4 separate regions of the Homo sapiens genome follow, and regions 1, 2 and 4 are each reported to be linked to region 3. Evidence: microRNA targets listed by miRTarBase, many of them from high-throughput screens and not tested one by one. Region 3 holds a microRNA gene; each other region holds the end of a gene's coding sequence.

Region 1 (3,149 bases), not on the chromosome of region 3:
TTCCCAGCAGACAGGTGGCCCATGTGACCGTTGTGGTTGATGCTTTTCTCCTGGTAGAGGGGGTGGGGAGAATGCCATGCCCAGTGTGGCCAGTCCCCCACAGAGCAGGCCCCAGTGCAGCTCAGAGTTGTGTGCTGGTGTGGCTTGGGTACCATTCAGGGTCCCGCCTCCAGATTTGCAGGTGCTGCTAAGGGGCAGCCTCGGATCTCACTTTTGGGAGGGATTCATTGGTGTGGTTACTCTGCGTTCAACTTTTGTTTTTTCTTTTTACAGGAACGGCAGAGTCGAAACAAACAATGAGGGCGAACCAGTTTCTTACATGTTCTAACGTTTGACTTTGAAAACAGTTTAAAACACGTGTGCTTGGTCAGCTCCAGTGTGTCGTCCCGTGCGGGGGTTGAGTGTTGCATCTTTGCCTTTCTTGTCGTTGATTTTTGCCCAGATGGATCTGCATTTATTTGTACTTTTTCTATGTATTATAATCCTGTAGAAGTCACTAATAAAGGAGTATTTTTTTTGTCAGCTTATCAATCAGACTGATCTAATGTGAAATGTAAGTATCCTTAAAAACAAAGCATCTATTTTGGCAGAAATTGTGTTCTTAAATTCAGTCATTTGATATTCTGTGAGACTTCATATTTCTCATCCCTTTATTGCTTTTTAGCAAACATAAGAAACCATGAGTCATTTTGTCATTTAGAGTATTCTGATAAAATCTCTTGAAAATACTGAAATCAAAAGGTTAATGATTTTTTGTTCATTCTGATTTGTCATTTTATTATCTGTTATCGGTCTAAAGTGCTAATTTACCCATTTGATTTTTCTGCTAGACAGATAACTTTTAATTTTTCAAATTTGGCAGACACTTTTTTTTTTTTTTTGAAAATCTTTCCTTCCAGATCTGTTGCCCACTGAACAGCCACCCGTCCCTCACTGTCCTGGTGTCCGATTGGGCTGGATGGTGTTGGGGCATGATGTGTGGAGGAACTGGAAGGTGCTTTAGGTCTGGTTCAGGGTCGGGCATTCTTTGTTGTTTGCACATCTTTTTAAATTTTACACCTTTTCTTAAGAATTCTAATGCCGTCTTAAGTTTTTATACCAATAATGCTGAGCTTTAAGTGTAGGATCTGGTAGTACAGACAGTGTGATGGATGATGCTGCTGGTTGTAAATTTCATCGTGTGTGTCTAATTTTTTTTCCTGTTGAATGGGTAAAAACAAAACAAAACTTTTTTTAGAAGATGAATTTGCTGTCATGTTTTGTGGAATGAGGGACCGTTGAGCTCACTACCACCTGGAGTTTGAGTTGAAGCATGAAAATGGTGCCCATGCCTGACGCTCCAGCGCCTGGATCTGCACGTGCCCTTGTAGAGGATCCTTACCGTCCTAGAGAGCAGACGCTTTCTGAAAACTACTTGCTCCAAAAGACCCTCTGAGTTAACGTTTCAGCTGTATCATTAGACTTGTATTTAGAGCGTGTCACTTCCTCTGAACTGTTACTGCCTGAATGGAGTCCTGGACGACATTGGGTTTTTCCTCTAGGAGAATACAAGCCTTAATAAACAATACTATTTAGCAAACTTGGTGTCACCTCATTCTTCACCCTACTTGATGAGTTTATGTGTTGGAGCTTTTTAAGCTGCAGAGCCATTCGGGGAGTCACCGTAGAAAGCCCTGTGTTTCTCAAGGTGTGGGATTCTCGTTCCCTCGCTTTGGAAGAGGGAGCTGTTAATTTCCTTAAGACTATAAACTACATGGCACCGTCACCCACCCCTCATCACATGAATGTGCAGACGCAGCGGTGCGTGCAGCACCTGGGCACCGCTACCCCCTTTCTGGACTTGGCTCCTCACCGTCTCTCTCCATTCATCCTCCAATGCCTCTTATTATTTATGCAATAAGAGTTTAATACCTGTTTAGTTTGTTTTCCTTTTGAGGTAAAATTTATAAGCAGTGAAATGCACATTGTGTACATCTGCAGAAGTTGACAAGTATGTGATAAAGTTATGCAATATTAGCCTCAGCCCAGAAAATCCTGAGCTCAGGCAATCCGCCCGCCTTGGCCTCCCAAAGTACTAGGATTACAGGCACGAGCCACCACACCCAGTCTGTGAAGAGATTTTTTTAACAGAATTTTTAAGAGAATGCAATGCAAAATACAGAGTTCTTAATTTTTCCAGTTTTACATTTGAGGGGTAGGGAGGAAATGTTAATTCTTAAGAGTAGGATCTGCATATCCAGGTCCTTAATCCAAATACTCTGGAGCCTTCTCGGGACAGGGAACACCACATCTGCTTTTGAGAGCAGCCACGGTTGAGGAGGCTGGTGGTTATTCCAGTGCCCAGCAAAGTTTATTATTAACCGGAAGACACATTCAGTCCATTTTTAACAAAAGAGGAGGTTTCAGGTTAAATGGGTGTCCCGCCCGCTGGTTTTATTAGTTTGCATCTTGATAGATAAGGGGGCCAGATGAGGATGGCATCTTTCCCAGGCAGTCACCACCTCTGCCAGAAGTTAGTAGTTGGTTTAAGGAAACACAAAATGAGAACGGGAAAACGTGTCTGTTCTGACAGGCCAGTTAGAGGTAGGCTGTGTGCTCCCACCTGCAGCTCCAAATGCTGCTGTCATTTTAGGGAAGTGTGTTTTCAACCTCGAGTGGCTAATTCCTTCATTTTATGCCATTTTCTTGCTTGTATTCAAGTCCTGGCCTCCTTTAAAGATGAGTTCCCGGCTTTCAGAATGCTGAGCCGAGAGGTGCTGAAAGGTGGCAAGCATGACGACAGGTGCCATGCTTTATCTTTGTTGTTTCGTTGTTGTGGAAGAAGTGGATGCTGTTGTCCCCACAGAGTGGGAGGTGGTGGCAGGGACTCTGGCAAGTGGTAGTTGCTGACTGGCTTGTGAATGGATAGTGGATTGGGCGGTCTAGACAACACCTCCCCTGAGGCCTCCAAACCGGAGGAGGCAGTGGCTTCTCCTTCTGCCAACTTGGAAAGTTTTGTAGAACTGACACCGTGTCTGGGTGTTTGGGGCCTCCTGCCTGCATTCGTGGTGCATGGTAATGCCAGGCAAGGAGCCAGGCCTACCAGGGGAAGGGAGAACCGAAAGGCATAGGTTTGTGGAGTGAGAATTGGGGGGGCGGGGGAGGGATTT
Region 2 (3,149 bases), not on the chromosome of region 3:
CTGAGTTGGGCTGTGATGAGCCACCCGGCTGGAGAGCTTGTGCCCTGGTTACACGATTGCCAGTGAGATGCCTATGGACTCGCATGTAGAGGTGGGTACCCAGACAGCTCAGAGTGAGCTGCCTGCGGGCCCAGCATGCAGAGGTGTGTACTCAGTGCTGTGTGAGATGCCTGTGGGCCCAGGCACGGAGGGATGCATGCGTGCCCAGAAAGCAAAAGGCTGTGCAGAGGACCTGCTAGGAGGTAATGACTAGAGAACATGTTTTTAAGCAAACAGGTGAAGGGAAAATGCAAAATAAGGAGCTACATAAGCATCACATCTTAAGAATCATTATGGAGCACCTAACTGTGACTTGTTGGGCTGGGAGCCAAACAACATAGGTGGGACACGCTGCACATAAAAGTAACAAGCTGGAGGTCCAGAGGAACCCTTGGAGCCGTCCCAAGACTGAGAGCCGGTGTCAGGCACCACCTCTTCTGGGCACCTGGGCTATGGCAGTGGGGAGGATGAGCCCCTGATCCCAGAGGCCACTCTCTCACACAGTGCAGTGCAGTCTTTCTCACACAGGACCTAGTGTAACACGGGACCTAATGGCAGGACACATCAACCCATTAAAAATCCAAGCAAGGTACAAGAGATTTCTAGAAACAAAGAATCAGGCTTTATTTTTGTTATTTTGAATACAGGTATTGTATTGTAGACATCTGTTAGTCTCATAATTCAGTATGGCCAACACACAGAAATTAAAAGTAGAAACAAAATGAGGGCACACTTGCTCCTGTCCTTGGCTTGGCCCCTCCAACCTCCAAAAGAACTGTCCTCCCCATTGTCATATCCTTTCCCTGCTACGAAAGACAAAACAAAATGATGCCCCAAAGAAAAGTCCCAGAGGCTCTCTCCCAGCAGTCAGTGGGATGAAGCAAGACACTGTTACCTTGGGTAGGATGGAGAAGCCACCAGGTCCATACCACAGAGGCCACAGTGGGATGGAGAAGCCACCAGGTCCATACCACGGAGGCCACGTGTGCCACCAGTGGAGCCAAACCCTGGCCATGGCTGGCAAAACTCACCACCAGGCGAGACCAGAGCATATTATCTACCAGTAATCCCCGAGGTCCAACGCCATTCAAGTCAGGCAGCCCTGAGGCAAGCAGGAGGAGCCCTGTCCTCTGGGGGTGCTGCTTCCAGAGGAGGCCCAAGGACAGTCTCTTCAGAGAGGGGCTCACCCGGGAAAGGGGGTTCCTGAGGAGGCGTGCAAAGGTCAAGGGACCCACCCTTGCCACCTGTCCCAGGGCTTACTGCTGACTCCACTGTCCTGGGAGTGCTGGAATCTCCACACCACTTAAAATGAAAAAGGAAATCAGAAATAATAAGGCATTAGACGTTTGATTCTTTTATTTCCATATGCAATGTAATGTTTAGGCACGCTGCTTGGGATGCTACTTCTAAAAAAATTGTTGGCCATTTTTCAGAATATCCTTTTGGTTTTAAATACTGGTCAGGAAAAACAAATGATGTAAAAATACGTGAATAATTTTCTATTACAGAAATGAAAAACTGATTTGCATCTAAAAGTGCAAGAGGTGAAGTAATTTAACCCTTTCACCAGACGATATGGCAATATACAATATATTGCTTGAGCTGTTTGAGAAGGCTGTGATGTATTTTTGTATTGACATAGAAAATTATAAATTACATTGAATTAGTATCCATAATCACTATATATATACACAAACCAGTTCTAAAAAAATACACTGGTTTAAATTTATGAGTGAAAACCTCACAAGGTACAGTAAACAATTAGCATGCTTCGGTGCCAGATTTTGATTTCTACTTTTAAAATACTAGCCTGTAAAATGAACGCACTCTAATTCCATTAGCAGCACGAGCATTTTCAACTGACTTGCCTAATAGGATTTATTTTAGGTCTGTTAAATATGCAGATTGCTCTGAAATGTTCATTGGTGATGCTTGTTAACAAGGTAAATTTTGGTGAATGGGTTAAAAGGCAGATGAACTACCAAATGAAACAAAAAAACAAACAAAAACAAAAGCCAAAAAAAAAAAAAAAAAATCCCAAAACACAAGCCATATACACTCCAAATAGTCTAGTGTTTCACTTGTAGGAATAATCATTTCAAGCAAACAAGACTTGAACAGAACATATGGCTTTACGATAACATCAATTTATCAACTATGATGTAGCAATAAATACTTTACTTAATCTCTACCAATAGACTTACATTTTTGATCCGTTTTAAACAATACAGAAAACAATTACCAATCAAAAACTGGTTATAAAAAGAACACCAAATATTTCTTATTCAAAATCACTTTTGTAAGTTAGAACAACCAAAATAACACTTAGAGGGCATTTTCATTCTACAACTCCTTGTCGGCCTGGAGGAAAAATGAATTCATAATTTTGTACAAGGTGAAAAATGTATGAAAACCGCCTAATACTTTGGTCACACTAATAATTGTCAAAGTTATGTTTCAAATACAATAGATCTGTGTATTCACTTTTATAAAACTATTCTTACAGCCATTTTAACTATAGTATTACTACTATTATTACATGGGTGGCAAGATCTTATTTCACAGGCTACCCATTATTTAGAACAATACAATATAAACATACGCAAAAATTCTTGGTATTTGTCAATGTGCAATATTTTTACACTTCTGAATTTCTCTGTACAATGTCTTAGAATCTAGAATATAAAGGTTGCTGGTCCTGATCCCTTGCAGAGTGAGTGCAGCAGTGACAGCTTGGTGGGCTCCAGCTGACCCCTCCAGAGCCCCTGAGTGGTGGCGGTCTGCAGTCCTCAGTCAGCAGCAGCAGACGTCACCCGTCATACAGGGCCATTCACTGAAGTGTCACCTGGTGCGCTTGGTTGGCCAGTCCTAAGGAGCAACAGACAGGCATCGGAGGCACTTGCAGCAGAAATATGAAAAACAAAACCTACTTAGCTGAGCTCCCCAAGGGCAGGGACAACTTATTTTAACATTGTTTTGAACTTAGTAAGTTTTTAATAAAATGATATGTAAATGAATGGAGCAAAAGCTCTAGAAAAATCTGAGTGAGTGCATCTAAGCTTCATCACCGGGTGAGCAGGCATTCAGCAAGGGCAGCAGCAGAGCAAATG
Region 3 (3,149 bases):
CTAGGAAACTCATATGTTCTGCTCTGATCATCTTTACACTAATGGCAGTTGATTTCTGGAGCCCATTTAGACATATGTATGAGGTGTCTATTGCATGATTGGAAATCACTTTCCTCTCTGCTCACCTTGCTTGAGGCCTCAGAGATGTGATTGGTTACTGCTCCCATCTCCTAGTTGTCCAGTCTGGTTTTGAGGGCAGTTCCAAGGTGGAGCCCTCAGATCTTGAGGCAGCAGTCATTTCTTTTACCACTGTCTTTTCTTGGTCTGATGGTAGCATCAAGGTTGATTAAAAAATGTGGGCTTTATTAACCACAGGTTTGACTCTGAGAATCACAGAAACACTTGCCTTAATGACTTTATAATTTTAGCCTTCCACTAAAATGGAACAGTTTGAAAGTGAATTTTAAGAATTGTTTTCGAAGTTTCAGAAACCTTAGTAGTATTTTTTGTTACTAAGGAGAACGTACCCCTTTCTGCATATTGCCAGTTTAGTATTCTTAAACTTCACAAACAGTAGGAGTAAAAAACATTTTCTTCTTTCTTTCAGCTGGTTTACCATGCATTGCAATTGTTAGCATATACAGCCCTTGGTATTTTAATTATGAGACTAAAACTCTTCTTGACACCACACATGTGTGTTATGGCATCACTGATCTGCTCAAGACAGGTAACATGTTATGTTGGAGTATAGCTACTATGATAATTTTAGCCTTTATTATTGAGTGGCCCTAAAATAATGAATTACAAAGTCTTTTAAGTGATTATAGTTAAAGCTCTTCATGGTTTTGTACTTATCTTTCTTAAAGGGTAAGGGCCAAAGCTGATCATTTTCTATCTTTCTAAAGATTTAAAATAGTTGTTGGTGTACAACTAATACCGATTTAGTACAGACTGAGTTCATGAGTGATTACTGCAGGTGCTGATAGAAAGCAGAGCTTAATTGTACAAATAATAACTTTTTTTGTTTTGACATTCATATCACAAAGAAATCTAATAATTTCAGGTTATAAGTGCTTGAAAATTATATGTTCTTTTTTTAGTATCAAACTTATTTTTTTTTCAGTTGGTGCAATTTGTGTGCACATTCTTGACTTGTGCTTTTTAAAATTTAGTTTAAGCCTTCCTTGGTGGTTTGCTGCTTATTTTTCCTGGATAGCTGCCTCCTTGTTCTGTATTCACAGATTTATGCTTCTCCATAGTGTCACCTTTCCATCAGTCAACCAGCCTAGGTACAACAGCAGCACCTCCCTTAGACGTAGCAGATAGTCACTAAGCACCTACACTGCGCACTCTAGGGATGGAGGAGAGAGTAGTAGACAGAAAAGTCAAAAGCCAGTGTTTATAAGCCCTCAAGAAACTTGAAATCTAGCTCTGTAGACATGTGGAGAAAGATCAAGAGAACAAAGTGTTGTTATGGAGTGTGGACTATTTGGATGTGGAAAAAATTAGCCAGCCTTGAGGTTCCCAATCAGTATGTTGTATTATGTTAGAAAGGCACTACTTTCTACCTTTCTGACCCCTTCAGGCTGGCACAGGAAAGGAGGCTGGTTGGAAGCCTTTAATCTTGAGTCTTATCCCACAGCATGACTGATGATATAGGTTGGTGCAAAAGTAATTGTGGATTTTGTCGTTAAAAATAGCAAAACCCGCAATTACTTTTGCACCAACCTAATAGAAAGTGTCACCCAGGGCAGGTTTTCCAAGTGTGGGGTTCCTGCTGGTCACACAGGACCTCACATTCAGGACCCTGAACTTGATTGAATGTTTGCTGCTGCTGTTTTGAACGTCTTAATTTTTTAACAAGAGACCCCACATTTTTGTTTTGTACTGGGCCTTGTAAATTGGTTGTGGCTTTACTTGAATCTGGGAGTAGTGAAAGCAGGTTGAGAAAAGAGCTTCCTACATTGTGTTCCACTTATATGAGGCTGATGGTAGAATCCTTTTGATCCCAAAGATTATTATTTTGGGGCTTTTTCTTTAGGATAATTAATCCTTTATTTGGGACTCTAGCAGAGGCCTTATTCTTCTCTGGGAAGAAGTTTTGCATAACAGATGCATACTACTTATACTAACAATTACCAATGTATTCTTAATTTGGTTTCAGCTATTTGGATGGCTCTTTTGCAAAGTACATCCTGGTGCTATTGTGTTTGCTATATTAGCAGCAATGTCAATACAAGGTTCAGCAAATCTGCAAACCCAGTGGAATATTGTAGGGGAGTTCAGCAATTTGCCCCAAGAAGAACTTATAGAATGGATCAAATATAGTACTAAACCAGGTAAAAAAAAAAAAAAGAAAAAAAAAGTCATATTATTTAGCTGTTTTTCCCACAATTTTATATACCACTGCAAACTCTTAAACCCTAGTTACTTCCACTGATCTCACTCTTTCTATGCAATGTTGCTTTTAGAATATCTAAAACAAAGGAGATATCAATCCTGTTTAAATGGTTTGCAGGGGAAATGTTATACATATGTTCTTAGTAATTTATTCTGCCATTTTTTATAGATTTTAATTTTTTCAAAATTTATTCACAGTCATAAATGCCACATTTAAAATAATTTTTCCTGTGCTTATTTTCTTAATGAATTTTTAATATTAGTCCTTCACATTCCTTCTTGAAATAAACTCATGGAATGTGACATTTTATTCATGTGTGGAAAGGGAGACTTTGTTGTCATCTGAGTATCAAATGATTGAATACTAAATCATCTTCCAGAACTCCTTGTTACTGTAAAGCTTTCCTAGTCCATTTGATACTTCTTTTTTAGATTCAGGAAAGATTTCTAAGATTTTTTCTTTAAAGAAAGAAAGAAATCTTTAATGATGAGATGATGAAGCTCTGTTTTCCAAGGAAAATAGTTTACCCAGGCCTGGCTGCCAACTGCTACTTTATCAGCCATCTGACTTCATGCTAGTTCTGCCATTGAATCTTGAAGTCATGAACCTGCTGGGCTTCCGCTCTGTTACCTGTGAAATAATTGATTTACACTTGAAGGAGACACCTTCTCGCCTTCACTGAGTGTCTTCCTGAGACATTCCTCTTGCCTTCCAGATGCAGTGTTTGCGGGTGCCATGCCCACGATGGCAAGTGTTAAGCTCTCTGCACTTCGGCCCATTGTGAATCATCCACATTATGAAGACGCAG
Region 4 (3,149 bases), not on the chromosome of region 3:
AGGAGGGCTTCTGGGGTACACATAATGCTCTGTGTTTTGATCTGAAGACTAGTATGTGAGTTTGTTTAATTTGTGAAAACCTTTATTTGTGTACTGTTTTGTGTGTGTGTGGTATATGCAGTTTTAAAAACTGATGCCTTTTAAACACTTACTAATCTGATAATCTGCCGAAAAAGAATATATAACATATATTCAAGGGGATGGAAAAATACTTACTGAACAATAATTTTATTTCTCAAGAACGCTGAAGATTTTGTTTCTCTCTTCAAAAGATTTAAAAAATTTTAACTGGCAAAACATAATAGTGACTCTTAAATGCTAAAAAAAAAAAAAAAAAAAAAAAAAAAAGAAAAAACCTAAAAATAAAATATTGCATAAGTAAGCTTTGTTATGCCTCGATCTTAGGACTGTAAATTATAAAAATACAAGTAAAACCACATTTTTTGAAATAACAGTAAACAAAAACAAAAGGCAGGTACTACATACCAAATGACCAAAATGTCTTTTGGGCCTAAGATTCTTGAAAATAGTAAAAATGGTAATAATAGAAATCTCTCTATAGAACATTAAATATAAAAACCATTTATAAAACACATCACAATTTTATTGCTTGAAGAATACAGCATATGAAATCACAAGAATGTCAAAATGAAAAGTCACTAGGCTTCAAACGTATAATACATTATCAGATGCAGTAAAATATTAACCTGAACTCTGCATCAGAAAAAAAAAAAAAGGTGTGGAAAATATCTAAGTTGTTTACTTAAGAAACAGATATACTTAAAATAGAAAGTATAAGGATGTTACAGTACAAATTAGAAAAGCCAACACGTATTAACTTATCGTTCTAGACTAGACTACCTTTGGTACTTAAACTTTTTAAAAAACAATTTCTTCTATCTCATCCAAATGCACTTCATGGGTATGACATCCATGAAGTAACTTCAACTTAAAACATTCAGCAAAATTAACCTTTTCACTTCATGGGGGAAGTATATTTAATAAATGTATAACAATATTTCCCTTTTACTAAAACTGCAAAATATGATCATTAAGAAACCTAACAGTTATAAAACTTTACTTACTTAGCTCTCCAATTAAAATTGGAATCCTGGGAGCCACAATCTATTTTTGGGCTTGGTGAATACATAAGTTTAAAAGATTTGGCAACTGACATAGGAATTTAATTACTTAATACTATCTTAAGTGACTTTTCCTTTCTGTTTCCAAAATATAGACATTATGCCATTTCTTCAACATCCTGGATTCCTATAAACACTACCATACTGTATTTATTAGAACCAAATTAAAGCTTCTCTAACAAGCAGGTAGAAACTATTTATGTTCCATATACGGCTGATAAGTTATAACACAACTTATGTTTCATATAGGGCTGATCAGTTAATTCATATAGGGCTGATCAGTTGTAACATAACTTCTTAAGCAAAACTAATCTTTTTTTTAAAGCTATCACTCAATTATGGAGACAATAATGTCATCTCAAAAGGTAATGTTGGACTCTAGGCCATCTAGTTGGGAAAATGTAAAAGTAATTCTAAAAACAATAAGTAAACTATAACTACAAGTTAAATTAAAAATCCCTCTCTCATAGCAAGCATGCTCATTAACTTTCATTTCTTTCCCCCAGCAAAGGTTTGAATATTCATAAACCTCAGTTAAACCAAGAGAACCAATGTAATTGTTTCAAAAGTACCACCTATATATTTGAATAATATGAGTATGGATGGACTAGGTAAGTAATACTATCAACAATTACTGAATTGGAGTGAAAGAGTAAAAATCATGACAGACTTCCAAACTGGGCAGTCTTTGAAATGTCATAGTGGAGCTCAAAATGAATTATGCTGTAATAAAACTATAGTTTTTACCTCTACACAAAACAGAAACAAAATAAAAAAACATAACCACCAAATTTATACAAATACTATTAAACATACTCCTTCCTAGTTTTTGAATGTCTTGAAGTTTTTCTAAACAAGTATATTGATCTGAGCATATATATTTATTGCCTATATATGTACTCATTTTAAAAGACAAATTCAGATACTACAGAACTGAACTCTTTCACCAACCCAATCCAATGTCTACTGATTCACACAGCACCCCCCCCTTAATAATTTAAAATTCACAAGTTTTAGTTTAGTTAAAAGGGCAGAGGAAATGCAAATGCAGATTTAGAGCTTTGTAGAAATTTCACTGTATTTTTATAAACTTGAAGTTATCTGTAACACTGTTTATTGATCAAACGAAGGACTCGCTGCTATCTAAAATTTCATAAACACCATTAAAAATTCAAAATTGATATTATACTGAACCTTAAATTTTCAATAGTTCAAAGAGACAGTTTTTACATGTATAGCACACAATAGATGAAACTTAATAGCAGACATCCCTAGAATACCAATGACAAGTCCACCAAGATGCATACAAAATTACAGATAAGCATTTCTTTCACTGTTTTTGTTGTGCAGGGAAAAACATTTATAGAAGAAATAGAAACTCAGCTGGTGAATTTCAGATATCATCATCATCTTCTTCATCCTGAGAAGATCCCGCCTGATTAGATGCACTGGCTGAGGCAGCAGCAAGCTGGGCTTGTTGGGCAGCTTGCTGCATTTGAAGCCATTCCTGTTGGGCCAATTCTGCTTGTTGCTGTCTAGCCTAAACACCCAAAACATAAAAAAAAATAACAATTTTTTACAAACCCACAATATATACACTTTGGTTAAATGTAGATTAGGCCAATTTCAGACAGTTTATTATCATACTTGGATACTGTCCAAGTACTATGTAATTGTCACACATCTGGAGAACATAAACTCTATAGGTAAATATAATTAGAGATTGCTTTTTTCTAACTACACAGGTCTAAGAAATTTCTCAAACTTGGATCTCTTATAAATGGCCCTGTTTTATTTCACGTAATTTATGACCTTTGATTCAACTGAAGAAGTTGAAAAAGTGGAACCAATATTGTGAAAAACCCACAATATTCCCTCTGGCTCTTTCCCTCTTCTTTTCCTTTCATTTCACTTGACTCTTCTGTACCCTCATATTACAACTTTGATACAAACATTTTTCAATCTAAAATTTATTTATATGGTTTAAAAGTTCTCTAGTATAGTACC

The links. Region 3 holds the annotated microRNA hsa-miR-548n (CAAAAGUAAUUGUGGAUUUUGU, at 1,607-1,628, shown strand). A microRNA usually pairs through its seed, bases 2 to 8, with sites in the 3' UTR of a target mRNA and lowers its output. Matches are read on the target gene's strand: a 7mer-m8 pairs with bases 2 to 8, a 7mer-A1 pairs with bases 2 to 7 and ends in A, and an 8mer does both.
Region 1: the mRNA of YTHDF1 is a reported target of hsa-miR-548n. Seed matches in the 3' UTR shown: 7mer-m8 at 462-468 and 7mer-A1 at 838-844.
Region 2: the mRNA of PPP6R3 is a reported target of hsa-miR-548n. Seed matches in the 3' UTR shown: 7mer-A1 at 1,570-1,576 and 8mer at 745-752.
Region 4: miRTarBase lists DR1 as a target of hsa-miR-548n. Seed matches in the 3' UTR shown: 7mer-m8 at 1,707-1,713 and 8mer at 1,545-1,552.

What each region holds. Positions count from the first base shown.
Region 1 is chr20:63,193,859-63,197,007 of GRCh38, reverse strand. It overlaps YTHDF1 (YTH N6-methyladenosine RNA binding protein F1), which reads left to right. Exons shown (of 5, transcript NM_017798.4): 5 at 274-1,579. The coding sequence ends at 300. Among named protein-coding and RNA genes, the nearest start is that of MIR124-3, 17 kb to the right of the region's middle.
Region 2 is chr11:68,612,824-68,615,972 of GRCh38, reverse strand. It overlaps PPP6R3 (protein phosphatase 6 regulatory subunit 3), which reads right to left. Exons shown (of 24, transcript NM_001164161.2): 24 at 639-2,907. The coding sequence ends at 2,856. Among named protein-coding and RNA genes, the nearest start is that of GAL, 70 kb to the left of the region's middle.
Region 3 is chr7:34,939,283-34,942,431 of GRCh38, reverse strand. It overlaps MIR548N (microRNA 548n), which reads left to right and starts at 1,598; the gene lies at 1,598-1,672. DPY19L1 (dpy-19 like C-mannosyltransferase 1) reads left to right here. Exons shown (of 22, transcript NM_001366673.1): 18 at 548-667; 19 at 2,105-2,279; 20 at 3,057-3,149. It overlaps LOC102724723 (a long non-coding RNA gene), which reads right to left and starts at 206. Exons shown (of 3, transcript XR_001745166.2): 1 at 126-206.
Region 4 is chr1:93,360,026-93,363,174 of GRCh38, reverse strand. DR1 (down-regulator of transcription 1) reads right to left here. Exons shown (of 3, transcript NM_001938.3): 3 at 1-2,682. The coding sequence ends at 2,536. Among named protein-coding and RNA genes, the nearest start is that of DR1, 16 kb to the right of the region's middle.